Linked DNA regions of Homo sapiens: region 2 is linked to region 1. Evidence: fine-mapped expression QTL. A gene starts in region 1. The other region holds a variant in brackets. All regions are shown on one strand. Distances are between the middles of the regions.

The links. PIP is the estimated chance that this variant, and not a neighbour inherited with it, causes the effect. A credible set is the group of variants that fine-mapping cannot tell apart.
Region 2: its variant is the best candidate, but not a certain one, in a credible set for the expression of STRADB in neutrophils (BLUEPRINT, PIP 0.86).

What each region holds. Positions count from the first base shown.
Region 1 is chr2:201,441,729-201,458,624 of GRCh38, reverse strand. It overlaps STRADB (STE20 related adaptor beta), which reads right to left and starts at 6,885. Exons shown (of 12, transcript NM_018571.6): 1 at 6,687-6,885; 2 at 3,773-3,879. The coding sequence starts at 3,784. It overlaps TRAK2 (trafficking kinesin protein 2), which reads left to right and starts at 7,167. Exons shown (of 16, transcript NM_015049.3): 1 at 7,167-7,275. RefSeq lists a silencer at 6,315-6,994 and enhancers at 7,025-7,554, 6,958-7,812.
Region 2 is chr2:200,863,625-200,876,164 of GRCh38, reverse strand. PPIL3 (peptidylprolyl isomerase like 3) reads left to right here. Exons shown (of 7, transcript NM_130906.3): 7 at 4,644-5,258. The coding sequence ends at 4,770. CLK1 (CDC like kinase 1) reads left to right here and starts at 11,507. Exons shown (of 13, transcript NM_004071.4): 1 at 11,507-11,601. RefSeq lists enhancers at 11,788-12,337, 12,368-12,447. The variant C/T (reference allele first, on the strand shown) is at 6,410.

The DNA of each region.
Region 1 (16,896 bases):
CTCAGCATGGGAGAGAAGGGAGAAGTGGCTGGGCATGCAGACAAACTTCATATATGTGAGAATTTTATTTGGTGCTATCACTGATCCTTGCCCTCTTTTCTTGATGTCATAATAATTCATTTTAACTGTTGGTGTTAATTTTTAACTCTGTCTGTCAACATCACTGAGGTTTTCTTCTGAATATTTAGCCAAAGATTATTCTGCTGAATTCATTATAATTATTTTTATTTTGATCCTCAGCTATCTTAAGTATAGAAACCATGTTTATTCACATTAAGCCACATATTGAGTGAAAAAATAATTGTTTTTAAAGGTGATAAACATCTCTAATTATAACTCAAAGCAAATTAAAAGAGACTTACTTTTATTATCGCAATTTACATTTTTCTGCATATTAACCCATGGTTCTATTATTATTTATTGCCAATAAAGAAATGTAACACCTACATGTGATTTATCACATCATCAATCAGTGGGGTGAAGCTGACATACTATTTAGGAAGAAAAAGTATGTCAAAAGAAAAGTATAAACACATTGTATGAGAGGCTTTTATAACAAGATAACTTCAATATTTGAAAAAATTTCTTTCTTTTTTTTTTTGAGACGGAGTCTCAGTCTGTCACCCAGGCTAGAGTGCAGTGGTGCAATCTTGGCTTGATGCAACCTCTGCCTCCTGGGTTCAAGCAATTCTCCTGCCTCAACTTCCTGAGTAGCTGGGATTACAGGCACCTGCCACCACGCCCCGCTAATTTTTGTATTTTTAGTAGAGATGGGATTTCACCATGTTGGCCAGGCTGGTTTCAGACTCCTGACCTCAATCAAGTGTTCCGCCCACCTCAGCCTTCCAAAGTGCTGGGATTATAGGCGTGAGCCACCACAGCCATTTCAGAATTTTTCATTTCAAGCATCTTATTTTTATATTAACATTAAAGTACAATATCAAATGAGTCTCTTAAGATATGTCTACCTATGTCTACTTAACACTTTGTAGTCAATTACTTAAATATAAATTTCCTTTTAAGATATGCCAGAATTTCTCACTAATCAAACTAGTCATTGTCCCAGTTAGCCTTCATTACTGATTATTTTAACTTGAATTCCTACAGTCTGTATACTTTATAAATCTATTACAAAAATTTGGTATATATTCCCACTGTTTTATGTAAAACTCACCCTGAAGAATAGACGCTAACAATGTCAAGATAGCTGTACAACTGATTCCTCTGCAGAGTTTCTAATGGCTTCCTAGGGTGAATAACATTTATAATAAAACAGTTTTTGAAGATACTTATTACTGTTGTTCATATTGAAAATATCCACCAGCTGGGCAGGACATTTATATATTGTTTGGTATTTATATATTTTTACAACATTTAGCTTGAATTTTTCACAACGACCATTAATACCACTGTGCAAAAGAAGAATTAACAGCAGGCCTAAAACTGCTATTCTTAGAAAATAGCTGCTTATAAGGTTGACCCTTGGCTAGTATCTGGGAACTGGGATTTTGCAGAGGTTCCCTTCATAAGAATCGCTCACTGTGTCTAAACTGTTTGTGCAAATAATACAGTTTATGCTGAACACCTGGCTTTTTTTCTGGGAGACTGGAATTTTGTTACTTGCTAGCAGAGCACGCCTACGTGACAAGTCCCCAATAAAAACCTTAAGTCCAAGTCTCTAATGAGCTTCCCTAGTAGACAACATTTCACATGTCACAACTCTGGGGGAACTGTGCATATACTATGGAACTCCACTGAGAAAAGATTCTTGAAAGCTTGTGCCTGGTTTCCTCTGAACTTCACCCCACATACCTTTTCCCTTTGAATATTTTTGAATATAATTTCTTTATCCATTATCATAATAGCCAAGTAAAAAGTAGTTAGACCTTACAAAGAAACTGAAAGAAGATATTTTTACATATGCTGCTCCTTTGAAAACAGCATTTCTTAGTTCTCAAATAGAGGGTAAAACTTGAATGGGGAGGAATCCTTAAGTAAAAGTATCAACTTTATCCCAACTGCACAAATTTCTCGTTTAAGGAAAAAAAGTAAATATTTCGATTCAAAGAATTTAAAATATTTCACCATTGCAGAAAAATGTGATTTAAAGTTACAATCATTAACGATATAAATCACCCATTATCACATTCTATTATTTTTCACAAAACCCATAATTATGGAATAATAGGCTAAGATATTCTTTTTCCAAAATTTGAAAGCCCTGGGCAACACACAGCCCTTTGAATCTCACAATTCTCGCCTATCAAATGAAGGGAATAGACTGAATGCCCTTTCACATCTTTTCCAACTTAAAAATTGATATAAAATTGTAAATCTTAAGTAATCCTTTAGAGTAAGGGTCGGCAAACTATGGTCCATGAGCCAAATCTGACCCACCACCTGTTTTTGTGAGTAAAGTTTTACTGGAACACAGATACATTCATTCATTCATTTATATATTGCCTATGGCTGCTTTCATGCTAGTATTTCAGCAGAAAAGTAGCTGTAACAAAGACCAAAGGGTCTGTAAATACTATCTGGCCTTTACAGAAAAGCTTGCTGATCCCTCCTTTACAGAATAAAACATTTCACCTCCGTGTATTTTCCAGATATATAAAGCTTCTCTTTCAAGTGGTAATGCTTTACTTTAAACATGTAAGTAACTGTGTTATGTATTTTCCATATTACTAACAATCCAGTCTTCTAACTTCATAGTTCTGCCTCTCAGCCTTGGTAATTGATAGAATAGATTGGCAGGTATGAGTCTGGCTCCAACTTTTTGCAATCTTGGACAAACTGAAAATGAGGATAATGCCACCTGCCCTGCTAAACTTACACAATTTGAAACTATGAAAGAAATATATGAAAGTATTTGTAAACTATAAATCATCATACAAATATACTCATCCTTTTTTTTTTTTGAGACAGGATCTCCCTCTATCACCCAGGCTGGAATGCAATGGCATGATCACAGTTCACTGCAGCCTTGATCCCTTGTTCAAGGGATCCTCCCACCTTAACCCTCTGAGTAGCTGAGACTACAGGCATATGACACTACGTCTGGCTAATATTTTATACAGACAGGATCTCACTATGTTGCCTAGGCTGGTGTTGAACTCCTGGGTTCAACTGATTCTCTAGCCTTGGCCCCTAAAAATGCTGGGATTACAGGTGTGAGCCACTACACGTGGTCTACTCATTACTTTTTTAAAAACCACATTTTAATATAAGTATTCCCTATTCAAATATTATTATTATGTATAAAACAGGATGAAAGTCCTCAAGCTACTTAATCTAAAGTAGATACCACGGATCTAAATATAAATAGAAAACCAGTTGGCAGCTATACCTCATATATACATTGATCCAAATGATTTTATTTCGGTTAAGTCAAAGGGGTTATTTTTAATACTGTTTGGCTTGCTTTTGGTCAGATGGAAATTTGTAAAAGGAATTTCTGAAAGATTTAAAAGATAAGGCATAGCTAACTGGTGTGGGTGGCATATCAAAGTATAACACCTATGAGAAAAAGTAGATATGGGACAAAAGATTAGAATAATGAACATATTGAAGTATACGAGAAGTTCTTTATGAAAGAAAGAAAAACTCAATGAGAATGTAATTCATTTCTCAAGTCCAGAAGTCAATCAGGTCAAAACAATATCTCAGAGCATAAGAATATCCCATCAGAATATGCCTTTTATTATGGCTTGGCATTAACATCCAACTACTCTGACAGAACAAAATCAGATCTATATTTACAAAAACTTACCAAAAGAGACATTGAATCACTTTAGTTCACACAGAAAGTGACAAAAATCCATCTATTCCAAAGAAGGCTTTTGTTTTATCTTCCTTTCAAGATGCAGATATATCCTACTATAAAAAACAAAAGCAAAATAATTTAGATTCACATAAAAGTTCCTTAAAGAACCAGTTGCCTTAAACCCATCCAATATTTAGGCAGCTATTCCCTGATACCCAATATTTAGGCAGCTACTCCTTGACACAAGGAGACATTCCTGAAAAGTATCTTTAAAGAGCATTTATTTTTTACTGAACATTATTTGTGATCTGACATCACAACCAAGAAGCAGAGTGAAAACAAAAAGAAGTCCTGAATATTTCCAAAGCCTCAATATGTTTGCATTTCTCCTTCCCTATCTTTTCTATACTGTTTTTTGTTTGTTTTTTAAAGAACGCTGAGCAAATTTGAAAGCAATGTAGAAAACCAATTTTTGGCCCACTTTTGATATAAACAGTGTCACTTACAATAAACCCCAAGAATTTTCAATGGTTCCACATATTACAACTAAACTTTGAGACTTTCCAAAGCCCTTTCTTATTGGATTAATTACGTATTAAATCATTTGGGGTCCCTGACCAGCAAATATGGGAAAGAATCAGAATAACAGACTAGGAAATTAATTCAAGGAGATACAAAAGCACCATCCACGGTTTCCAGACCTTTACTAATAGAAAGGGTGGCAATCTTGTAAGTTTGTGGGTTCAGAGCATCCCTTTACATCTAACCAACATCATCTCTTTCATCTAAATTGTGCTTCATTATTTCAACTCCCCAAATTTGATGAACCCATCTACAAATATGTGAGCAGGATGAGAAAGGGAAGATTTTGTAAACCATAAAAACCATAAAGCAATATCCAATTTTATTGCTAAAGAAAGAGGTGAATTTATTCAGGATGTTCACTATGAACCAAAGGTAGAGATTGGGAGGAAGACGGACCTGAAAGGCTGTGATCATTTAGCCACCTACCATTCATTACCGTCAATTTAAAGCACTGGAGTTTGCTGTGCTGCAAAAGGAGGAAAGCAATGCCTGCCCTGCCAACCTTCCAGGGTGAATGAAATCAAATGAGTTACATCTCAAAGTGCCCCTAATTAGCAAACACTGTATCAGCTTGAACTATGCTTTGAAAGGTACACTCAAATGTACTGATGGCAGTACAAAACTATAAGGTTTATTTGGAAAGCAGGTTGTCAAATGTTTCAATAACCATGAAAATATTCATACTTTTTGACCCAGTAAAATTCCCCGGAGTGATCTATTCTAAGGAGATATCCAAGTAAATGAAGAAACTACACATCATAGTCAATACACTGTTAATCTGTTAACAGCCAAGTAATCATTACACAAGTGTTTAATGAGTGGTTACCATGGGTCAGGCACTGTGGACACCCGCTGGTAATCAGGGCAGACAAGACCCTGGCCACTTGTAGCTGACCTTCCCACAAGCAGAAGGGTTATGGATGTCATGATTAACCAAATTTTCTGGTTATCATGATTTTGTATCCTGCTTTTTTCACTCAATGTCAGCAAGTTGTTACTGATTTTGTCTTAATAATGTGAAACTCCATTACGTTGTCTATTTTTTTCTCTTTTTCAGAAAAGCTCAGAAGAAACAGACACAATCTGGTAAGAATTGTTAGTAATAAAAGGGTTGTCCCTATGGGGTGGTTTAATCTCAGAGATTTTTGCCTTAGATACACCAGACTATTAAGAGATAATTTTACAAGACATTTTGAGGTCAAGGCAGCAGCTGCACCCAGCAAAGGGGTGGGGGTGGGGGATTTGCTGTTATTATAATTTTCTCCGGCATGCTCTTTCACGAGATATGAATATAAACCCTTTCTTAAAAAAAAGTCATATTTAAGAGACTTATATTTCGTATTCACAAGTACATCAGTGCAGTCCCTTACACTTGTATCCAAAACGCTAATTACGATAAAGCTTTATAAGTAATTTCAGTTTGTTCCATAATAGAATGGTTCATGTGAAGACTTTGATCTGAAAGATTAACACTTTCTGTAGAAACCAAAGGGCGCATCTTCTAGAACACGGGTTTTGAGTTAATTTAGGCATTCAACAGAGGCCACTGTTACAGGGAATGCAAAAATGACCCGATGTAACTCTTTGTTGAGCTTTAAAATTACTGTAATTTTCAAAGTGATCTTGGGAACCCATAAAATCTTAACAAAGATCATAGCGACGCACAGTTCAGGAGAATTTTCCAAGCTTAGTGACTCATGCGTTCAACAAATCTTTACTGAGCGCCTACTGGGTGCCAGGCACCGTGCTAAGCAGGCGCCGTGTTACACATCCGTATCAAGTTTTGGGGAAAAGGTACTTGACAAAGACCCAGCAGGGAAAAACACAGCGTTGAATTGAAAAACCGAAGACAAAACGACACTCGAGTATTTAATTTTGTAAAAGGTTCCTTCCTAGTCCTGCTATGGGGGACTTTGCAGCGAACTTGCAGAAGGCGGCAGATAGAGCTGGGGTCTGAGGGTGTCTTCGATATGGCAACTCCCCAAGCCCGAGAGCGCGGCCAAAGGTGAGGGGTGCGGGGAGAGGGCGCCCGGGCGGCCTGGGCCCCGCGCACCTGGCACGGCCGGCACGGCCAACCCGGCAGGCACCACTGGGCGGGCTGCGAACCCGCGGCCCGGGCCCCGCTGAGCCCGAGCTGCACTGGCGCAGTGGCTGCTCGCCACCTCGGGCCGCATTCTTGCCACGGCTCCCGCCAGCCGCCGGTGCTCGGGCTGGAGGTGGGCTAGCGCGTTCTGGCCTCTGGCTTCCCGGGCGTGCGCGGACCAAGGCTCACTCCCTCACACGTCCCCCACCGGCCCCGACACCTTCCCTTCCCGGGCCTGCCTCCCGTCTTTACCCTAGCGGCGACCACGGCCAGCGACTCTCTTCAGGCTGCCAGCGGTGCGGACAGGGGCGGGCGCCAGAGCCCTGCTCGCGGAGGGGCGAGGCGAGCGCTCTAGGCCCGCTCCCGGCGCGGGGCGCGGGAGGGCGGCGAGGCCGCGACCGGGGCCGTGGGCTTGGAACTCTGCACCAGTCCCAGGCTACCCGCTGGGAACGCATTCGCCCCACCCGCGCCGGGGTCGCGGCCCCGCCTCCCTCCCCGGGGCTGGGCAGCGAGAAGGCGGGGCCTTCGAGCTTGAGGCGGGGCGGGCAGGAAACTACAATTCCCAGCAGGTCTTGCGCTGGGGCCGTGGAGGCCGCTGGGAGAGTGGCTCTCCTTTGGCTTCCCCAATTGTGTGGGGGCTGCCATTGACCCGGTGTCGCCGCAGAACCGAGGTCGCCGAGTGATGATGTTGTGAAGTCGCCCGCCTGTCCCTGCCACGCCCGGGCGGTTGCTGGCAGTGGGAGCAGCGGCAGCAGCTTCGGCTGCTGCTTTCAGGCTGCCGCTGCATTAGGGGCTTCCTGAGGAAGCGCGGGCGGACGACAGAGGATGCCGAACCACTCCAGTGAGTAAGCTGTCCGCGCAGAACCCGAACTTGCCCTTGACAACTTCCCCGGAAAGCGGAGGGACCTCCTCGTCCCAAGGTCCTCCGGTACCCGGAGGTCACGCGCGGACGTCGGAGCCGGAGGCTGGGTGCTGGAGGGCTGGGTCCGGGTCCCGCGGTGAGGCGTGGGTTGTTTCCTAAGTGTGGGTGCAAAGTAATGGGCGCTAGGCGCTGGCGTCGGTATTCAGCCCAGCTGCACATCTGAGGCTTGGCAGCTTCTCATAGCGCCTTATCCTCTGCCATACAGCATCCATCTGGAGCCCTGTCTTTTAGGATGAGTGGCTTTAGGGTCGGGCATTAAACCTTAAGCTTCAGTCGCCATCTGTGATGTAAGTGGGAGGAGAGGGTATTGGAAAGAGCTCTTTCTGGGTCAAATAGAGTTGGGCTTTTCTTGCAATTGATTTTGAGCCAGATGCCACATATCTTGAAAAAGAAAAACGGCTGACTTTAGTTTGAAGCGTAAATAATAGATATTCGCACATGTCCTTTTTAGTAGCAGCCCAAAAATTGAATTTCAACTTAAAAAAAAATCTGCGTCATAATAATAGGGATGTTACTTGCTCTTGCTCATGCACCTTTTGCTTAGACCTGCTGTTTCTACGTCAGAAAAAAAAAAAAAAAAGGTAACTTCACAGGATATTCATCAAGTTGATGGAATGGACCATAGGAACAAAAGGAACACTTTCAGTTCTTGGTCTCCGTAAATCTTCCCGACCTTTAGATCTTTGCTGTTGACTTGGAAGTCTGAGGTACAGTAGTCTCCAAATAGCAGGTTAATGGTGGTGACATGACACTTAAAAACAAATTGTGAAGGACATTTGGAGGTGAGAAAGGTCAGGGATGAAGACATTTTATCATCCTAGCAGTTATTCCAACTTTCTTTTCTTTTTTTTTTTTAAGACAGAGTCTCGCTCTGTCGCCAGGCTGGAGTGCAGTGGGGTGATCTCGGCTCACTGCAACCTCCGCCTCCCGGATTCAAGCGATTCTCCTGCCTCAGCCTGCAGAGTAGCTGGGACTACAGGCGCGCACCACCACGCCCAGCTAATTTTTGTGTTTTTAGTAGAGATGGGGTTTCACCATGTTGGCCAGGATGGTCTCGATCTCTTGACCTCATGATCCACCCGCTTTGGCCTCCCAAAGTGCTGGGATTACAGACGTGAGCCGCCACACCCAGCTCCAGTTTTCTATTTTTAAAATTAAGTAATGTCCAGCAAGTCTCAGACATTTAGCAAGCACATACCATGTGAAAGACAGTGTTTTGTTATCTTACACACTTATTCATATGATGGAAGAGGTTTGTTAGAAAGAACCAACATTTGGCCGGGCGCTGTGGCTCACTCCTGTAATCCCAGCACTTTGGGAGGCCAAGGAGGACAGATCTCCTGAGGTGGAGAGTTCAAGAACAGCCTGACCAACATGGAGAAACCCGTCTCTACTGAAAGGAAATACACCAGCCTGGCCAATATGGTGAAACCCCGTCTCTACTAAAAATACAGAAATTAGCCGGGCGTGGTGGCACGCGCCTGTAGTCCCAGCTACTCGGAGGCTAAGGCAGAAGAATTGCTTGAACCCGGAGGCAGAGGTTGCAGTGAGCCAAGATTGCACCCCTGCACTCCAGCCTGGGCAACAGCGAGACTCCATCTCAAAAAAAAAAAAAAATTAGCCAGGCATGGTGGCACATGCCTGCAGTCCCAGCTACTGAGGAGGCTGAGGCAGGAGAATCGCTTGAACCCAGGAGGCGGAGGTTGCGGTGAGCCAAGATCGAGCCATTGCACTCCAGTCTGGGCAACAAGAGTGAAACTCAGTCTCAAAAAAAAAAAAAAAAAAAAAGAACCAACATTTTAGTATTTGCAATCTGCCAGGCACCCCAGGTGGGAGCTCTTCATACTTTAGCTCACTTAATCACTTTAACAAACCTATCACACTAATCTGAGGCTCAAAGACTTGCTTATGTAACAAGGGGAGATTTAAATCTAGATCTGCCTTGCTTCCAAGTCACAGATCAGGTAACTAATACGTACTTCAGAAATTATAGACTTTAAAGGTTGAGTGGTTAAAGAGGATTGTCTAGTGTTATTGTCTAAGACTGGTTCCAACACACACCTTGGACATCTGGAATAAGTCCTGAACCCCTGCTTTAGTACTTTTGAACAAACTGATTCTCTCTGCCTACAATTCCCATTTCTTACTGAACTGCTCAGTAAGACCCGAAAAGCCCATTCCAAATCCATCTCACTTATGTAAGAAATTATAAGACTGGACTTTTATCAAAAGGTTCTTTTCAGTTTACAGGTTTTGTGAGTCTGCAAATAAAAATATGACCCTGCTGGGTGTGGTGACTCACACCTGTAATCTCAGCACTTTGAGAGCCCGAGGCAGGAGGATGACTTGAGACCAGCCTGTTCAACATAGCAAAACCCCATGTCTACCAAAAATAAAAAATAGCTGGGTGTGGTTGTTTGTGCCTGTAGTGCCAGCTGAGATCAAAGGATCCCTTGAGCGATGATGGCACCACTGCACTCCAGCTTGAGTGACAGAGTGAGACGCCATCTCTAAAAAAAATTAAAATACGAGCAGAGAAGTGTTATTCTCCACTGAAACTTTCTTTGCTTTAGTGCCCCAAATATGTTAAATACCAGTATAAGGAATGAGACAGATAATGTCTTATTTCATGTTTATTGTGAGCTCTCATTATATTATCTGTACCAGTTTTGAACCTCTTTAGTTACCATCCTGTTTAGTTGGTAAGAAATAGGAGGCAAAAAGGTAATAGTCACATTTAAATGACTTAGTAATTAAAAGAACTAAATTATTCATAGTTGAGTCATTATCTGTTCAGATCTGCAGTGTTCTTATAATAATAGGAAACATTTATGTAATACTATGTGTTAGATAATGTTTTACCTATATTAACTTATCCTCACAATAGCACTGAGGTGTTTTTATAGATAGGCAACTAAAGCAAAGAGAAGATAGTAAATATACCAAAGGTCATGTAGCTACTACATGGTAGTACTGAGTGTCAGAGAAGACAAGATCAAAATCTGTAATCTAACATTTATTGAGAACCTACTGTGTACCAGCCCCACAGCTGGGTGCTTTCATTATGAGTTAGTCATTTGTCTTTACAACTACCTTATTTAAAATGGAAGTTCAGCATGTAATGACTTGCTCAGAGTCACAGATAAGTAAACTGTGGAATCAGGATTTGAACCCATGCTTGTCGTACTTCAAGGTTCCTGTTCTTTCTTTCATTTTCCTTCAGTGATCAAATCTTTATTAAACACCTTCTGTGTGCCACACACTGTGCCAATGCTAGGAATTTAGTCTTTGCTCTTAAGGAATGTAGTTTGAAGAAGGAAAGAGACAATTAACATAGTGTGTTGAGCAATGGGATCACAGCTTGCCGAGGTACTTTGGGAGCACAGAGAAAGAACACTGAAGTTACTCTGGAGTGGGAAGGCTTGGACCAGTCTTGGGAAAACAAATGGGAATTAGCCTGGGCAGAGAAAAGGGGAAGGGGTTGTTATGGGCTGAATTGTGTCCTCCCAAAATTATATTGAAGCCCTAACAGCCGTAACCTCAGAATGTGACTGTATTTGGAGACAGGGCTTTGGGGTGATTAAGTTCAGATGAAGCCGTTAGGGTGGGTTCTAATCCAGTCTGACAGTTTTCCTTATAAGAAGGAAATTTGAGCACAAAAAGAGACACAGGAGTTGCACACACAAAGGAAAGACCATGTGAGGATTCATCAAGAAGACCAAGGAGAGAGGCCTCAGGAGAAACCAACCTGCCAACACCTTGATTTTGGACTTCCAGACTCCAGTATTGTGAAAAAATAAATTTCTGTTGTTGAAGCCACCCAGTCTGTGGTAGTTTTTTATGGAACCCCTAGCAAACTAACAAATAGGTGTTCTAGGCAAAAGGAATGACATACAAAAAGGCTTTAAGCTGTGGTTAGGTGATAGAAGTTGACATACAAAAAGCCTTTAAGCTGTGGTTAGGTGATTGAGGTTTTTTGGTGAAGAGATAAATGTTGAGAGAAATGAAACTGGAGACTAGGCTGGGGCTGGATTAGGAAGATTTTACATGAGATGCCAAGGGGCTTAAACTTTATCCTAAGGAAGATGGGATGGAGGTGGTTTGTAGCAGTGGAAAAGCATTAGATTTGCATTTTAGAAAGACTAAGACTTGTAAAGGATAAATGAAAGGTAATAAGACCGGAGACAAGGTAACCAAGGTAGCTAGTGCCACAGGATGCTGAACTAACAGTTTTCCCAGAATATTGAAATGTCTAACTAAAACAGAGCCACTGTTAATATAACATTATAAAGGGCACAGCTAACCCTTAGGGTGTACATAAGAAGATAGGGAAAGAATTTGTATATAGCTGTTTGTACCCAGAGGCTGTCTTTATTTTGACATTTTGCTTTTCCTTGTATAGATCATAAAGCTTTATACAACTATCAGAATATTCAGATTTTTCCACTCTAAAAAGTGATCTTATGTATTTAATAGACACTTTTATGGTGCTGACACAGATTTAAGCCAAATTCTTTGACAACCTTTTGAAATACCTACTATTCATTTTAAACGTAAACATACTGAAGCACAGAGAGATTAAGTAGCTTGTCCAAGATCACATAGCTAACAGGCAGCAGAGTTAAGATTCAAACTCAGTCTGTCTTTAGAGTCTGTGTTCTTGGCTTTACACTGTGCTGTTGCTATATGATATTTATCTAGCTCTTTATTTGTGAAAAGAGGGCAGAGTAATACAAAAATAAGTATGTTTGCTGTAAGAGGCATGCAGTTTATCAGAGGAGATAAGGAACAGCTCTAAGGTTTTAAAAACTGTTTTAGAGAAGAGCAGAAAGTGTTCGGAGGCAATACCTCCTTCAAGTTGGGGTTTCTGGGAAGGCCTGTTGGGAAAAGTGGCATTGAGCTGGTGTGGGAAGCATGGCTAGAATTTGGATATGTAGAATGGGGAGAGGACATTAAAATTAGAAGAAATAGCATGGACAGAGTTACAGGACTGAGAATTTCCTGGTGTGTCTAGGAAGCTAGTAAATGCAGTTCTTTCTTTTGGCTGGAATATGTTGTGTGGTTGGGGAAGATGGAGAAGCTAGTTTGCAGGGAGGGGAAATGTCTGGGGAAGAGAATTCTCGGGGAGTGAGGGGCAAGAGAAGTTGTAAGGTTTCAAGCCTGAGTAATTGAGGCATATGCCAGATGTAGTTATCTTTTAGGAGAGGAAAAAGTTCATCTATCCCCAACTCATCAGTTAACAGGTCCTGTTTTCACTATCTCACAAACCCGTAAATCCTTCTTAAAATTTCCATTCACCTAGTTTATACCTTTATTAAAATAATCCATGCGTAAATGTGATAAAATTTTCTAATTATTTTTGTCTCTAATCTCTCCATTCCAAAATTTATCCTGCATCCTGCATTTACATTTATTTCTCTCAAATGTCACTTCTATTTAGAAATGTGTTCCCTGCAGGATCAAGTTCAGACTTCTTAATCTGAACTAGTCAAATTTAAATCTCCAAATACCTTCCCCATAATTCTTCCCACTCAAATTGGTCTGTATATGCTGCCAACCTGGCTCTGTCTGCTACTTGCTGTTGGATATTATCATTATTATTTTCTCCTACCAGATAGTCTCCTCACCTATCCAAATCTTTTCCTCCTTAGGGAGTCCACTTAAATCTTACATCCTGTGTGAAGCCAGACCACCTCAGCTAGAAAAGAGCTCTCTCCCGACAATTCTGTTGTAACACTCATCAAATATTTATTATCTGGTACTATCTTATTTTCTTAGATTTCTTAGCTCATTGGATATTAGATCTAATCCAGATCATTAGAGCTGTCCCTTTTGGAGCTTAGACTTCTTAAATCTTTAACCTCCCTTTGGGCAGAGGCTGTTGTATACTACTATTTATCTTTTTTTAGTACTTTTGGTTTAATTCAAGTGGCATTTGTTGAAAGCTGTTCAATGAACAGCTGTTTGACCAGTTGTTAATTGAGGTCATTGTATTGAAATTTTCTTTTTCAACTGGCTGCTTAATATTTATATATAAGTGATGTTCTAGCTTTATTCTTAGCTTTACTACTGACTCACATAACCTCTTGAAGATACCCTGTTTAACTACCCCGTATTGTGGTTTATTCATGCTAGAAAATGAGCGTACAAAGTCTGCTGGTGGTATAGCAGTGGAACGAATTCATTTTGTAAAGATCCTTGAGGTCCTTGGAGCTTATCTATATTTATTTGTCAGTGTTTGCCAAACTTTGAGTTCTTTCTTTTTAGAAAGCTTTTTGACAAGTCACAAAAAAGGAAGGAATGATTAAATAGAGTCTAATTTAAGAGTGTTATACTCTATTGTGTAACAATGGAGTTGATGAATTGTGCATGTTAATGGTGAAAGAATTCCCCCACCAGTTTAGCTAATAGTTCATTTCAACACCAATTATTTATGGAGTTGCTTGAGCTTCTGGCATATTATATTCCTCTTCTGATCAGCAAGGAGGAGAGAGAAAATGGCACCCTCTCTTTCCTTTCAAGAAAAAGTAAAGTAGCCTCCTCTGCCTACCTTTGTTCTCTAACTTGGCATCTAATTTGTTTCTTTCACACATATATTATAATTTTGTATATTATTACAAATATATTATTACAATTTATGTGAAATTATAGTGTGAAAGAAACAAATTAGATGCCGAGTTAGAGAACAAAGGTGGGCAGAGGAGGCTACTTTAGATCAAGTAGACTGGTAAGTTTTAAAATGAGACTTAAATGTGAGAAGGAGTTAGCATATAGAGAACAAGAGAGAAAGAGTATTCCAGGTACAGTGAACAACAGTTACAAAGGCCCAGAGTTAAGAGAGTGATGAAGAATTAAAAGAAGTAACAAAAGGTCTGTGTCTCTGTGACTGAGTATGAGCAAGGAGGAGAGTGGTACAAGATGAGGGAGGAGAAGCAGGCAGGGGCCAGACTAGGCCAGACCTCACAGACTGTGATGAGAGGTGTGGTTTTATTGTCGTTACTATGAGAACCTTTGGATTTTTTAAGTATTATTATTATTTTTTATTTTTATTTTATTATTTATTTTTTTGAGACAGAGTCTCACTCTGTCACCCAGGCTGGAGTGCAGTGGTACGATCTCGGCTCACTGCAACCTCTGCTTCCCGGGTTCAAGCGATTCTCCTGCCTCAGGCTCCCAAGTAGCCAGGACTACAGGCACGTGCCACCATGCCTCCTAATTTTTGTATGTTTTTGTAGAGATGGGGTTTTACCATGCTGTCCAGGCAGATCTCGAACTCCTGAACTCAAGTGATCTGCCCACCTTGGCCTCCCAAAGTGCTGGGATTACAGGCGTGAGCCACTGCGGCCGCCCTGGATTTTTTTTAAGAAGGAGTTTAGCTTTAAAAACACTATTCTTGCTGCTTATAGAGAATGGAGAAGAACCCTGTTTAAGGCCATGATTAAGCATGGAGCCTTGTTAGGAGGTTTGTTGGTTCATAGTCTAAGAGATGATGATGGCTTGAACTAGGATGGTGGAAGAGAGGATGGAGAAAAGTGAGTAGATTTGAGGTATATATTGGTAGTAGGGTGTACAGGATTTGTTAATGGATTGGATGTGACAGGATGAGGGATGGAGGAATCTAGTATTCAGTGGATCATAATCAGCCTGTGGGAAATTTGAGTGGAGTCAAGAAGTCTGTCTGAAGAGCCAGATTGGGAGTCACTAACACTAAAAAGATAATTTAATCTGTGGTAGTGGTTGGTTGGCAAAAAGGTAATGAAAAAGCAGCTACAACAAGAACAATACAAAACGTGGTCACAGTTGGAACTCTGGAAAACACTAACATTTAAAGACCAAGGGGAGGGAATGGGATGATCCAGTGAGGAGTTTGAGAATGAGCATTGTAAGATCTCTCTCTCTCCAGGAGAGCCAAGGAAGGGAAGTTGAAACAGGGAGTAGTCAACAATATAAACCAGAGATGACATCAGATAACAATTAAGAAGTCATGATTGGATTGATTAGCAGGGACTGTTGATGACCCAAGGAGGGTGGTTTAGGATGAAATCAGGTTGTAGTGGGGTTGAGGTATGAATGAGAGGTGGGAGAGACAAAATGAGAGTATTTGAAGAAGCTTGAGTAAGGACAGAGGGTAGGTAGAGGGGAACTCAAAGACTTGGGAAAGGTAGGGGTTTTTTTAATTGTAGTTTTTAATAAAATAAAAGAATTTGAGCATGTTTAATAAGCCAAAGAAGAAGGTGAAACTGATGGAGGATAGGGATAATTAATGGAGCAAGGTTTAGAGAAGGCAGGAATAGGACTGTTGAGTTATATTTAATTACTTTTTAACTGGGTATACATATACACATGGTAGAAAAATTGAAAGGTATATAATAAAAAGTAAGTTTCTCTCTCCTTTCTGTCTTCCAGCCACCCAGTTCTTTCTCTAAGAGGAATACTAATTTACACTCTGATCAACAAGTGTGCAAGTGCATAACTGAGATTATGTTTGTCCATAATTCTCAGTTTGGAGCGAAAGCTAGCTATAGATTACATGGATTTATCAGTGGGAGGAATGAGAATAAGAGAAATGGAGAACAGATAGAGGGTCAGAGATAAGTGAGAAAAGATGTGGTATGGAATTGTCTCAGAAAAGAAAGGATGTTTAAGAGGATAATGGGGGGCGTGCCTGTGGAGTGAGGCCCACAGTTGATGACTGAATTTGCCTCATCCCTATTCCACATGGTGTTGTGACCTTTTCAGAAGTTAACTGCCTCTTTATGTTTAAAATGCAAGTCAATTTAGAAAATTGATTGCTCAAAAATTCATCATTTTTGTAAAGTAAATCATGTTTGGGGTCCAAGCGTCAAATCTCTGCTCTCTGCCCTTTTCTTTTTTTTTTTTGAGATGGAGTCTTGCTGTCGCCCAGGCTGGAGTGCAGTGGTGCGAACTCGGCTCACTGCAGGCTCCGCCCCCTGGGTTCACGCCATTCTCCTGCCGCAGCCTCCCGAGTAGCTGGGACTACAGGCGCCCACCACCTTGCCCAGCTAATTTTTTGTATTTTTAGTAGAGACGGGGGTTTCACTGTGTTAGCCAGGATGGTCTCGATCTCCTGACCTCGTGATCTGCCCACCTCAGCCTCCCAAAGTGCTGGGATTACAGGTGTGAGCCACCATGCCCAGCTTGCTCTCTGCTCGTATCGCTTTCCACTATAGGCACCTACCTCTCTTTGGGGTTATTCAGGCCAGTGGTGTAAGTTGAAACAAAAGGAAGTTTGTTGGTTTAGAAAGAGCACACCATCGGCCGGGCACAGTGGCTCACACCTGTAATCCCAGCACTTTGGGAGGCCCAGGTGGGTGGATCACGAGGTCAGGAGTTCGAGACCAGCCTGGCCAACATGTGGTGAAACCCCATCTCTACTAAAAATACAAAAATTAGCTGGGCGTGGTGGAGCACACCTGTAATCCCAGCTACTCTGAAGGCTGAGGCAGGAGAATCGCTTAAACCCGGGAGACGGAGGTTGCAGTGAGCTGAGATCGCGCCTCTGCACTCCTGCCTGGTCGA
Region 2 (12,540 bases), 580 kb after region 1:
CTACTTTAAAAAAAAAAAAAACAAAAAAAACACTTTTTTTTTAGAGACATGGTCTCACTATGTTGCCCAGGCTGGTCCATTTTCATTAATGATAGCATTTCACAGCAACTAACAGATCTGAAAAATAGTGGCTTAAACAAGATGGACTGGCATGGTGGTTCCATTTTGTTACCAGTGTTCTAGGCGCCTCTGTCATAATATTGGCAGCACAGCTCTTATCAAAACTTCTGTGTATCAGGGAGGAAAGGGGAGGAAAGACAAAAGGTGCTTGCCAGCTGATTCACCTTTTTTAATTAACAGAACTTTCCCAGGCCTGTAATCCCAGTGCTTTGGGAGGCTGAGACAGGAGGATCACTTGAGGCCAGGAGTTCAAGACCAGCCTGTGGAACATAGCAGAACCCATCTCTATAAAAAAAATTTAAAAATTAGCCAAGTGTGGTGACACACACCTGTAATCCCAACTACTCAGGAGGCTGAGGTGGGAGAATCACTTGAGCCCAGGAGTTCCAGGCTGCATGAGCTGAGATCACACTTCTGTACTCCAGCCTGGGCAACAATGATACCCTATCTCTAAAAAAAAAAAGATAGAAAAAAAGAAAAGCCGGGTGCGGTGGCTCACACCTGTAATCCCAGCACTTTGGGAGGCCAAGGAGGGCAGATCATGAGGTCAGGAGATCAAGACCATCCAGGCCAACATGGTGAAACCCCATCTCTACTAAAAATACAAAAATTAGCTGGGTGCGGTGGTGCGTGCCTGTAATTCCAGCTACTCAGGAAGCTGAGGCAGGAGAATGGCTTGAACCCTGGAGGTGGAGATTGCAGTGAGCCAAGATTGCGCCACTGCACTCCAGCCTGGTGACAAAGCGAGACTCCGTCTCAAAAAAAAAAAACTTTCCCAGAAGACCCAGAACTTAGTAATGTGACCACTCCTTACCTACAATGGAGGGTAGAAAATGTATTTCAGCCACATTGCCACCCTTACTAAAATTAGATTTCTCCGAGTAAGAAGAATGGCTCCTAGGAAGGTATTTCACAGTTTCTGCCAGGGTATCTATTAAGAGTACTATGTCTGGGAGTTGCTTTTATAAATCAGTGGGAAGTCAATTTGTCTGTTCGTTCAACAAATAATTATCATGCTTAATAAACCAAGGCACAATTCTAGAGTTTGTTCTATTTAATAGTTTGGATGCCAAATTAGGTTAATTAAAAATAGAGGACTCCCAGTCTAGGTAACATAGTGAAACCCCGTCTCTACAAAAAAATTTAAAAATTATCCAGGTGTGGTGGCTCACACCTATGGTCCCAGCTACTTGGGAGGCTGAAGTGAGAGGATTGCTGGGCTCAGGGTGTCAAGGCTGCAGTGAGATCTAGACAGATCTTTTCTTTTTCATTCCATATACATGTATCTAATTTACACATTAATAATAATCAAGGAGAAAAGAAATATTACAACATCTAGTAGTTTTTTTATGTTTGTAAATAACCCAGTTTCCCTCTTATTTTCTCCCTTAACCAACATCATTCAAAATTATTGTTCAGTTATTACCAGGACTCATTTTACTGGATTTGCGACAAAACTGTAGAGTTTAGAACAAAGATTAACCTTAGGTTCATTAATTCCTTGTTTGTTGTATACAGATGCACACACATTTTTCTGGGAAGATGATCCAGTAACTTTCCTCTAGTTCTCCAAGGGGTCCGTTTCCCATATACTTGACTCTACTTAACTGCCTCAGTTCTACCTGCTGGGTTTTTTTAACTTTTTACCTGAGACCTATGTTTTCTACCTCCTCTGTTTCTCTTACTGACCTAGAAGGTGGGATAGCCTTTAAGACTTATAATTTAAAGACTTAAATGTCTATATTTAGGGGTAAAATCAAAATGTTTTGGTTGAAGTACCCATTTTGTGAAAATGCAAAATAAAATGCAAATCTGCTAATTTTTTTTTTTTTTTTTTTTTGAGACAGAGTCTCACTCTGTCGCCCAGGCTGGAATGCAGTGGCGCCATCTCAGCTCACTGCAAGCTCACCCTCCTGGGTTCACGCCATTCTCCTGCCTCAGCCTCCCAAGTAGCTGGGACTACAGGCGCCCGCCACCGCGCCCGGCTAATTTTTTGTATTTTTAGTAGAGACGGGGTTTCACCATGTTAGCCAGGATGGTCTCAATCTCCCGACCTCGTGATCCGCCCGCCTTGGCCTCCCAAAGTGCTGAGATTACAGGCGTGAGCCACTGCGCCAGGCCTACAAATCTGTTAATTTTTTAAAGTACATACCAGTGGTTGAGAATCCCTAATCTGAAAATTAAAAATTAGGAACTTTTTGAGCACTGACATGATGCCACAAGTAGAAAATTCCACATCTGACCTCATGTGACGGGTTGCAGTCAAAATGCAGTCAGATGACCAGGTGCAGTGACTCACGCTTGTAATCCTAGCACTTTGGGAGGCCAAGGCGGGCAGATCACGAGGTCAAGAGATCAAAAGCCACTCTTTCTTAGCAAATGTTTTAGACTGAAATTTCCAAAACTTGTATTTGAAGAATAGCTCTCAATATATTTTTTCTTGGTGGTAACATGAAGTGGGATTGCTGGAGGCTGTTAACTGTCAGTCTTCTCTTCTCCTATTTTTATTACTTCTTGTTGTTATCCAGAAGCAAAAAGTAGAAATGCCATAATTAGGCCAGACGTGGTGGCTCATGCCTATAACCCCAGCACTTTGGGAGGCTGACGTGGGCAGATCACTTGAGGTCAAGAGTTTGAGACCAGCCTGGCCAATGTGGTGAAATCCCATCTCTACTAAAAACACAAAAATTAGCTGGGCATGGGGGCATGTGCCTGTAGTCCCAGCTGCTTGGGAGGCTGATGCAGAATTGCTTGAACCTGAAGGAAGAGGCTACAATGAGTCGAGATAGTGCTACTGCACTCCAACCTGGGCAATGGAAGTGAGACTCCATCTCAAAAAAAAAAAAAAAGAAAGAAATACTATAATTAAACAATTAACTGCTGGGCTTGGTGGCTCATGCCTGAATCCCAACACTTTGGGAGGCCAAGGCGGGCGGATCACCTGAGGTCAGGCCAGACCAGCCTGGCCAACATGCTGAAACTCCGTCTCTACTAAAAATACAAAAATTAGCCAGGCGTGGTGGTAGGCTCCTATAATCCCAGCTACTTGGGAGGCTGAGGCAGGAGAATTGCTTGAACCCAGGAGGAGAGGTTGCAGTGAGCCGAGATCACACCATTGCACTCCAGTCTGGGGGACCAGAGCGAGACTTCATCTCAAAAAAAAAAAAAACAAGTACAAAGTGGAGTGGTCACCTACTTTAGGACTCTCATTGTAGGGCAGTATTGCTAATAGTGTCATCTACATACTTTCTCCATGTATTTCCTGTAGCAAAGAAATCTTTATGACTAGTGTGTTGTAATAAGACATACATATTTGGACTTCATCCGTGGTTTCCAGCATAGTTCTTTTAAAAACCTTGCAATTTCCTGAGTGACAGGAGTGAAAGGAATATTTTATTGTTCATAATAAACCCCATTCAACCATACCTGAGTTTATGCTAATGAGGTGACTCTTGGTGGGGTTCTAGATAGCTTCAGTATGGAGGGCTGGTTGCCAGAGGAATCAGCCATGTATTTTTAGAGGGGTGGAACATTCAGTGACCTCCTATTCTTGACCTCTGGGAAGGAGAGAAGGGCTGGAGATTGAGTTCCAGTCACTAGTGGCCAGTGATTTAATTAATCGTGCCTACCTAATGTGCCCTCCGTAAAAACCCTAAACAGGGTTTGAGAGCTTCCAGGTTGGTGAACACAAGTAGATACTAAGAGGGTAACACACCCCGAGAAGAGCATGGAAGCGCTGTGCCCCTCTCTCAGACTTTGCCCTATGCATCTCCTCCATTTGGTTGTTCCTGAGTTGTAACCTTTATAATAGCCCATAGTAATAAATAAAGTGCTTTCCTAAGTTCTATGAGCCATTTTTGAAAATTATTGAACAGAGCTGGGGGGCATGAAAAATCCCAAATTATATCATGGTTAGTCAGATAGTACAGATCACAATCGGGACTTGGAACTGGCATCCGAAGTGGTAGGGGCTGTCTTGTGGGATTAACCGGGGTCTCTGTTCACTCCTTGTAGTTAGTGTCACAATTAAATTATAGGGCCAGGTGTGGGGGCATGCATTTGTAGTCCCAGTGAGATCCTGTCTTTAAAAAATTAAATAAAATTTTGAAAAAATAATCAAGTTGTGGGATACCCAGAGAATTGGAGAACTGGGAAAACCCACACATTTGGTGTTGGAAGTATGAAAGTGTAGAAAAACAGTTTGTTTTCCCTTTAACTGGTTATATTAGTCCCATTTGTAGCTGTTCTCTGTCACTGTATGAATGGGGTAGAATATAATTTTAGGTACTATGGTGGAAATATTCCTACCCTTTGTATTGTTGACTAAGGGCATAAAAGTAAATTATTTCTGAATTTTGATCCATATCTATGATGGAAAATCAACATTTTGTTGTACATTCAACTAGAGAACTCAGAGATCTGTAAGACTTGATTATTTTTTAAGGAGACTGTAATTGTCATAGATATGGATATCATGTTTCAATTTAAGGAAATTTTCATATGTTATGTTGTTTCTCTTTCAGGGTAATAGATGGTCTGGAAACTCTAGATGAGTTGGAGAAGTTGCCAGTAAATGAGAAGACATACCGACCTCTTAATGATGTACACATTAAGGACATAACTATTCATGCCAACCCATTTGCTCAGTAGCTATGATAGACCTGGACAAATAACTTGACAAATTGCTGGAACACACTTATTGTGGTTTACCCGGTTTTAATTATGTCAGAGATTGCATCATCCTTCTGCTTGTTTACAACTATGATCTTCTATGAAATGGTGGTACCAAGGGGCGCCCAACAGCTTTTATCCCCATTCTTAGAGCATATTCTTTATTATAATGATTATCCAACATATTTCTTTAATTTTAATACAAAAAATACATCATTTAATTTTTGTTACATATGAACATTCATTTTTAAATGCTCAGCCTCAAGTGCAGGCATTTTTGAGTGGCCTGATTACATATTCCTCCCACAGCAAGTCCGTATCCTGGAAGTGTTATTTTATAATAAAATTTAAAAAGTTTTAAAGAATTAAATCGTAGGACAAATTAATTAAAATATTGTGTAAAATTACCTTCAGGCTATGTGTATAAGGTATATATGAAACGTAAATGAACTTCATGTTTAAATTTGGGTCTCATCTCCAAGATATCTTATTATGTATATGCAAGTATCCCCAAATCTGAAAATTTGGGTATTCCTGAAACTGATACTAACGGTAAGAGCTCTACCATTAATTATTCACTTTATACAGTTAGAAAGAGGAGGGACAGGATAAAAAGTTAGTCTGGAAAGGCCAGCCAATCCATTTGCTATTTTCTCTGATTTTTTTTTTTTTCTTTTTGAGACGGAGTCTTGCTCTTTTACCCGGGCTGGAGTGCAGCGGGTCACTGCAACCCCTGCCTCCCAGGTTCAAGTGATTCTCCTGCCTCAGCCTCCCAAGTAGCTGGGACTACAGGTGCACACCACCATGCCCAGCTACTTTTTGTATTTTTTTTTTCAGTAGAGACGGGGTTTACAGAGACCATGTTGGCCAGGATGGTCTTGATCTTTTGACCTCATGATCTGCCCACCTCGGCCTCCCAAAGTGCTGGGATTACAGGTGTGATCTTTAGGTTTACAGTAAAGGCTCTCAGAGGTCCTGGAGGCCGAGTGTGGTGGCTGACGCCTATAATCCCAGCACTTTGGGAGGCCAAGATGGGCAGATCACGAGATCAGGAGATCAAGACCATCCTGGCTAACATGGTGAAACCCTGTCTCTACTAAAAATATAAAAAATTAGCTGGGCATGGTGGCGGGTGCCTGTAGTCCCAGCTACTTGGGAGGCTGAGGCAGGAGAATCACTTGAACCCGGGAGGCAGAGGTTGTAGTGAGCCAAGATCGAGCCATTGCACTCCAGCCTGGGTGACAGTGGGAGACTCCATCTCAAAAAAAAAAAAAAAAAAAAGATGTCTTGGAATACAGTAAACACTCAACATTTCCCAACTGATTTGCTCATGGACTTTTTTTTTTTTTTTTGAGACATAGTCTCACTCTTGTCACTCAGGCTGGAGTGCAATGGCACAATCTCGTCTCACTGCAACCTCCGCCTCCCGGGCTCAAGTGATTCTCCTGCCTCAGCCTCCCGAGTAGCTGGGATTACAGGCATCTGCCACCATGCCTAGCTATTGTTTTTTTGTGTTTTTAGTAGAGACAGGGTTTCACCATGTTGGCCAGGCTGGTCGTGAGCTCCTGACCTCAGGTGATCCGTCCACCTTGGCCGCCCAAAGTGCTGGGATTACAGG[C/T]GTGAGCCACCACACCCGGCCTGCTCATGGACATTTTTTAAGGCATATCTTTTTTTTTTTTAATTTTAGATTCAGCAGGTACATGTGCAGGTTTGTTACAAGTGTATAATGCATGGTGCTGAGGTTTGGGCTTCTACTGATCCTGTCACCCAGACAGTGAACATAGTGCCCAAAAGGAAGCTTTTCAGCCCTTGCCCCTGCCCCTTCCTCCTTTTTTGGAGTCCCCAGTGTCCACTGTTCCCATCTTTTTGTCCATGTGAATCCAAGATTTAGCTCCCATTTATTGTAACTGAATGCAGGCTGGGCTGCACGCCACTTGCAAAGTCAACAACAAGGAGGAGATGCAGGAAAAGGAAAGTGACTTTATTCCAGAGCTAGCAGTGGGGAAATGGCCAAAGCTAGTACCTTAAAGAAATCATTTTGAACTTTAGGCTGGGGAGAGGTGCTTAAAAAGGGAACTTAGAATGGGAGGCATGCGGGAGTGGTGCAGGGTTTCAGATCTCTGTGGCTTGCTGTAGTGGCTATCTTGAGTTGTGGTCCACCTGGAGTGGGGGCTGGCATCATCTCAACAATGGCTGGGTTGTTGACTAACCACCTTAAGGTAATCTCTGGAATTTTGCAGCTGGGTCTCCAAGCCTGGTATATGTCATGATTAGCCCTTGATGGGCCAGGCACAGTGGCTCACACCTATAATCGCAGCACTTTGGGGAGGCCAAGGTGGGAGGATCACCTGAGCCCAGGAGTTTTAGATCGGCCTGGGCAACGTAGTGAGACCTTGAATCTACTAAAAATTGAAAAAAAAAAAAAAAAAAAAAAAAAGCCGGATGTGGTAGCCCCAGCTACTTAAAAGGCTGAGGTGGGAGGATTGCTTGAGCTAGGGAAGTAGAGACTGCAGTGATCCATGGTCGTGCCACTGGACTCCAGCCTGGGCAAGAGAGTTAAGACCCTATAGATAAGAGTGTATAGTGTAAGTTTAACAAGTGTACAGTTAGATAAATGTGCATAGTATAAGGGAGTGTGAGGCGGGAAAGGGAGGGAAACGGTTTTAACAAGACTACATTCTGAAATTAAGAAAGAAAGGGCCAGGCACGGTGGCTCACGCCTGTAATCCCAGCACTTTGGGAGGCTGAGGCAGGCGGATCATGAGGTCAAGAGATCGAGACCATCCTGGCCAACATGGTGAAACCCCGTCTCTACTAAAAATACAAAAATTAGCTGGCCGTGGTGGCACGCGCCTGTAGTCCCAGCTACTTGAGAGGCTGAGGCAGGAGAATTGCTTGAACCTGGGAGGCAGAGGTCGCAGTGAGCCGAGATTGCACCACTGCACTCCAGCGTGGAAACAGAGACTTCTGTCTCAAAAAAAAAAGGAAAAAAAAAACTTTAAAATGCATTTCAAGGCTAGGATACTTGGTTATATTACAAGTGAGAACATAAGGCATATCTCTGAAAATATTGAAGAGTGGAGCTTTACAGAATATCCATTTGAAAAATGCAATGAACTAGTTAAAGGCACCAGTTTGTGGAGTTCTGGTCTGTGTTTGAATCACAGCTGTGTCCCTTACAGTGTAACTTTAAGCAAGTTAACATCTTCAAGCTTTAGTATTCTCATCCATAAATAATACCTCAGAAGACAATTGTGAGGGTTAAATGTGTGTAAAGCTTCTGGCATGTAGTAAGTAAGTAGAAGCTGCTGTCCTAACATTCATGTCCACCACAGGGCTCTCACCTCATCAAGCCATTCATTGGGTTCTACCACTGATTTCATCAAGACCATATTCTGCCCACTGCCTAGATCACAGTGGTTGGATTTGGGTGTTCCTAAAACTTATACCAGCCGAGCGTAGTGGCTCATGCCTGTAATTCCAGCCCTTTGGGAGGCCAAGGCGGGCAGATCACCTGAGGTTGGGAGTTCGAGACCAGCCTGACCAACATACAGAAAACCTGTCTCTATTAAAAATACAAAATTAGCTGGGCGTGGTGGCACATGCCTATAATCCCAGCTACTCGGGAGGCTGAGGCAGGAGAATTGTTTGAACCCCGGGAGGCGGCGGTTGCGGTGAGCTGAGATCGTGCCGTTGGACTCCAGCCTGGGTGACAAGAGCAAAACTCCGTCTCAAAATGTTTGTCTTGGCATCAGTTCTTGGTTTGTCTCATTTCTTCCAATGGCTGGTCTAATTAATGTTTTGATTCTTTCTTGACTAGTTTGGAGTTAGCTTACAGCTATCCTCTTGTCACCATTTATATCTTCCACTAAACTGAGGTGCTTTTTACTAGCAGCGAATCTGTATCCGTACAGGTCTGCAGCAACCTCAATTCTTGCCTCCTCAGAAGAAAGAATTCGACTGAGGGGCAGAAGGAGAGGGTGAGGCACGTTTTAGAGCAAGAGTGAAAGTTTATTAAAAAGCTTTAGAGGAGGAATGAAAGAAAGGGAAGTACGCTTGGAAGAGGACCAAGCGGGCGACTTGAAAGATAAATGTGTGGCTTGAGCTTTTGACTTGGCGTTTTATACACTGGCATACTTCCAAGGTCTTGCATTACTTCTCCCCACTTGCCCAACTCCTGAGATCTTATTGGGAAGCTGCTGCTCACCAGTTTCAGGTGTTTTCTATTAGGAGACTGCCGTTCCCTGGTGCCAGCTGTGACCAATTACTACTTCAGCAAGAGAGTTAATAACCGCCTGACCATCTCACCTGATGGTTGCCCGACACTCCTAGTGTGTGTTTGGGGGAGCCATCTCCTGCTTTGTTCATACCTGACTAGCTACCCACCGTAACAGTGCCAGTTATACTAGTGACTTTTTTTTTTTTTTGAGACAGAGTCTCACTCTGTCGCCTGGGCTGGAATGCAGTGGCGCAATCTCGGCTGACTGCAACCTCTGCCTCCAGGGTTCAAGCAATTCTTTTTTTTTTTTTTTTTTTTTGAGATAGAGTCTCACTCTATTGCCCAGGCTGGTACGCAATGTCGCGATCTTGACTCACTGCAACCTCCATCTCCCGGGTTCAAGCAATTCTGCCTCAGCCTCCCAAGTAGCTGGGATTACAGGTGAGCACCACCACGCCTTGCTAGTTTTTGTATTTTTAGTAGAGACAGTTTCAGCATGTTGGCCAGGGTGGTCTCAAACTCCTGACCTCATGATCCACCCACCTTGGCCTCCCAAAGTGTTGGGATTACAGGCGTAAGCCACCGCACCCGGCATACTAATGACTTTACATTTTGTTTCACTTTTAAAATTTTAATCATTTAAGTTTCTAGACTTAGTATTAAGGCCTTTCTTTGGCCAGACCTTGTTTTGCCACTTTTTTTTTTTTTTTTTTTGAGACGGAGTATTGCTCTGTTGCCCAGGCTGGAGTGCAATGGTGGATCTCGGCTCACTGCAACCTCTACCTCCTAGGTTCAAGCAATTCTCCTGCCTCAGCCTCCCGAGTAGCTGGGATTACAGGTGCCTGTCACCACGCCCGGCTAATTTTTTGTATTTTTAATAGAGACGGGGTTTCACCATCTTGGCCAGGCTGGTCTTGAACTCCTGATCTCGTGATCCACCCGCCTTGGCCTTCCATAGTGCTGGGATTACAGGCGTGAGCCACTGCGTCTGACCTCCTCCAAGTTTTATTCTAAACTCTGCCACTTTTAATTAGTGGTGCAAATATGTTTTTTTTGATTTTAGGAGTGTTAGTCCAAACTGCACCATTTTGTAAATCCTGCCCCCCCACCGCCCTGCCCCGTTTCCCCAGCCCTGCCTGGTCTCCCCCACCCTCTATTTTGCAGACCTTGGTCAAAGTGAAACATTCCACAGGGGTTCGGGCTGTGAGAAACATCCTGCCTAACCACCTGACCACAAAACGGACAAAGGCGCAACTAAAGAAACACCCCTATCATATTCTGCCGGGAGAAAGTGCAAAGAACACCACATTCCCGGGGGGTCGTGGTGGCTCACGCCTGTAATCCCATCACTTTGGGAGGCCGAGGCGGGTGGATCATCTGAGGTCAGGAGTTTCTACTAAAAATACAAAAAGTAGCGAGGGGTGGTGGCGCACGCCTGCAGTCCCAGCTACTGGGGAAGCTGAGACAGGAGAATCGCTTGAATTCAGGAGGCGGAGGTTGCAGTGAGTGGAGATCGCGCCACTGCACTCCAGCCTGGGCGACAGAGCAAGACTCCGTCTCAAAAACAAAACAAAACAAAAAAAACTACCACCACATTCTGCGGGAACAAGGGCCAGAACCGCCTCATTATGGGAACATCTTAACATCCTGCAGGGCAGCAAGTCAGCAAGCCATATGGCCCAGGCCCCTCCCGCCCTTACCTAAAAGTACCCCACTGGTGGGCACTGGCATTAGGCTGGTTCCCCACTTCTGTAGGTCTTAGGCTGGACATAAAGCCCGCAGTTGCTGTAGAGCTGCCACTCTGTATCTTTAACGCTGGCCTTCCCTTCAAAACTTATCAAGGAGCTTATTTTTAGAATGTGTGCTCAGTTACGGCCATAAAAGTATCATAGACAGGGAGGTATGCTGGCTGCCCACGTTGGGCCTGATGCAGGCACCATGAGGATCAAGGTGCAGAACATTGATTTCTGTTGGCTCACACTGATCCCATTAGTAATTTGAAGCCATCTGACGCTAGTGGTATATTTTATTTATTTATTTATTTTTTAGAGACGGGTCCCGCTATGCTGCCCAGGCTGGTCTCGAAATCCTGGGCTCAGCGATCTGCTCGCCTCGGCCTCCCAAAGTGCTAGGGTTACAGGCGTGACCCACCGCGCCGTGAAGTATTAGTTTTAAAGCAATTGTTTTAGTGGTCGCTAACAGGGTACATGCTACTGTGTATACTGATTCCCTCACTTTTCCTTGTTCACAAGTTGTTCCTTGTTCTAGAGTTCAAAAACTATCAGTGAGTGGGGACAACACGCCGACGGCTTCCTTTCATCCGCCACAGCGGGCTCTGGTTCCCTCCCTGGCGCCTGCGCCCACGATGGTCGCGCGCGCGACACGCCCGCCCTTTCCGCCTGCTCGCCCCGTGCATGACCCGCCCCGCGGCGGAGACGCGCTCGCTGCGTCATCAGTGTTTTCGAGACGAGTCTCGACGCAGCAGCTGTCAGCTCCATTTTGTTGTTGGTGCGCGACGCAGTCAGCTGCGTGATTCCCGTGATTGCGTTACAAGCTTTGTCTCCTTCGACTTGGAGTCTTTGTCCAGGACGGTAAGACGCAGGAGGGAGCGGACTAGGTGACAGGGCCGTTCCTGTGAGCCTCGCGGGCGCCTGGCGATGCCCCCTTTTCCTGCTTGTTTGCTGCCCGCCGTCCCCGGCGCGACGACTGCCTGCTCCCTTCACTCCCAGGCTGCACAGTGGCGGCGCGCCCCTCTTTCCTGCGCGGCCGAGCCTGTCGCCGCCGGATCCGGCCTGCGGGGGTAGTTACGGTGTTTGCTAGGCCGGCCGCCCTCTTGGAGCTTCTGCCCTCCGCTGAGGAAGCGGCGCCGCCTGACGCGGGACGGTCGGGCGGGCGCCATGTTGTGAACCGCCTCGGCGGAGCTGTAAGATGGCGGCTGGGCGGAGGCCGGCTTCGGCCCTGTGGCCGGAAAGGCGAGGCTCCCCGTTGAGGGGGGATTTGCTGGGGTTCCAGAATGTGCGTGAGCCAAGCAGCTGTGGGGAAACGTTGTCTGGAGTAAGTGGAGAAAGAGACGGAACCCGTAGGGGTTACAGTTAATGTCTAATGATGAAAGTGTCGGCGTAAACATCGCGAGTGGCTTTGTCCTCAGTGGTGTTAACAAAAACCAGATTTAGGAACCCAAGGAAAGAGAAATGCTGGGGTGTATTTGAAGGAGCGTTGTGACAGAAGTCAGGTGACCGAGAATTTTATGCGATGGCGTTTCAGCCACTCCTCTTGGGTTAGCAGTTGGAGCTTTTTTCTTTTCTTGGAGTCTCGCTCTGTCGCCCAGGCTAGAGTGTAGTGGCGCGATCTCGAGTCACTGCAGCCTCCGCCTCCCGGGTTCAAGCGATTCTCCTGCTTCAGCCTCCGGGATAGCTGGGATTACAGGCGCCCGCCACGACGCCGGGCTAATGTTTGTATTTTTAGTAGAGACAGAGTTTCACCATATTAAGCTGGCCTCAAACTGTTGACCTCAGGTGATCCATCCGCTT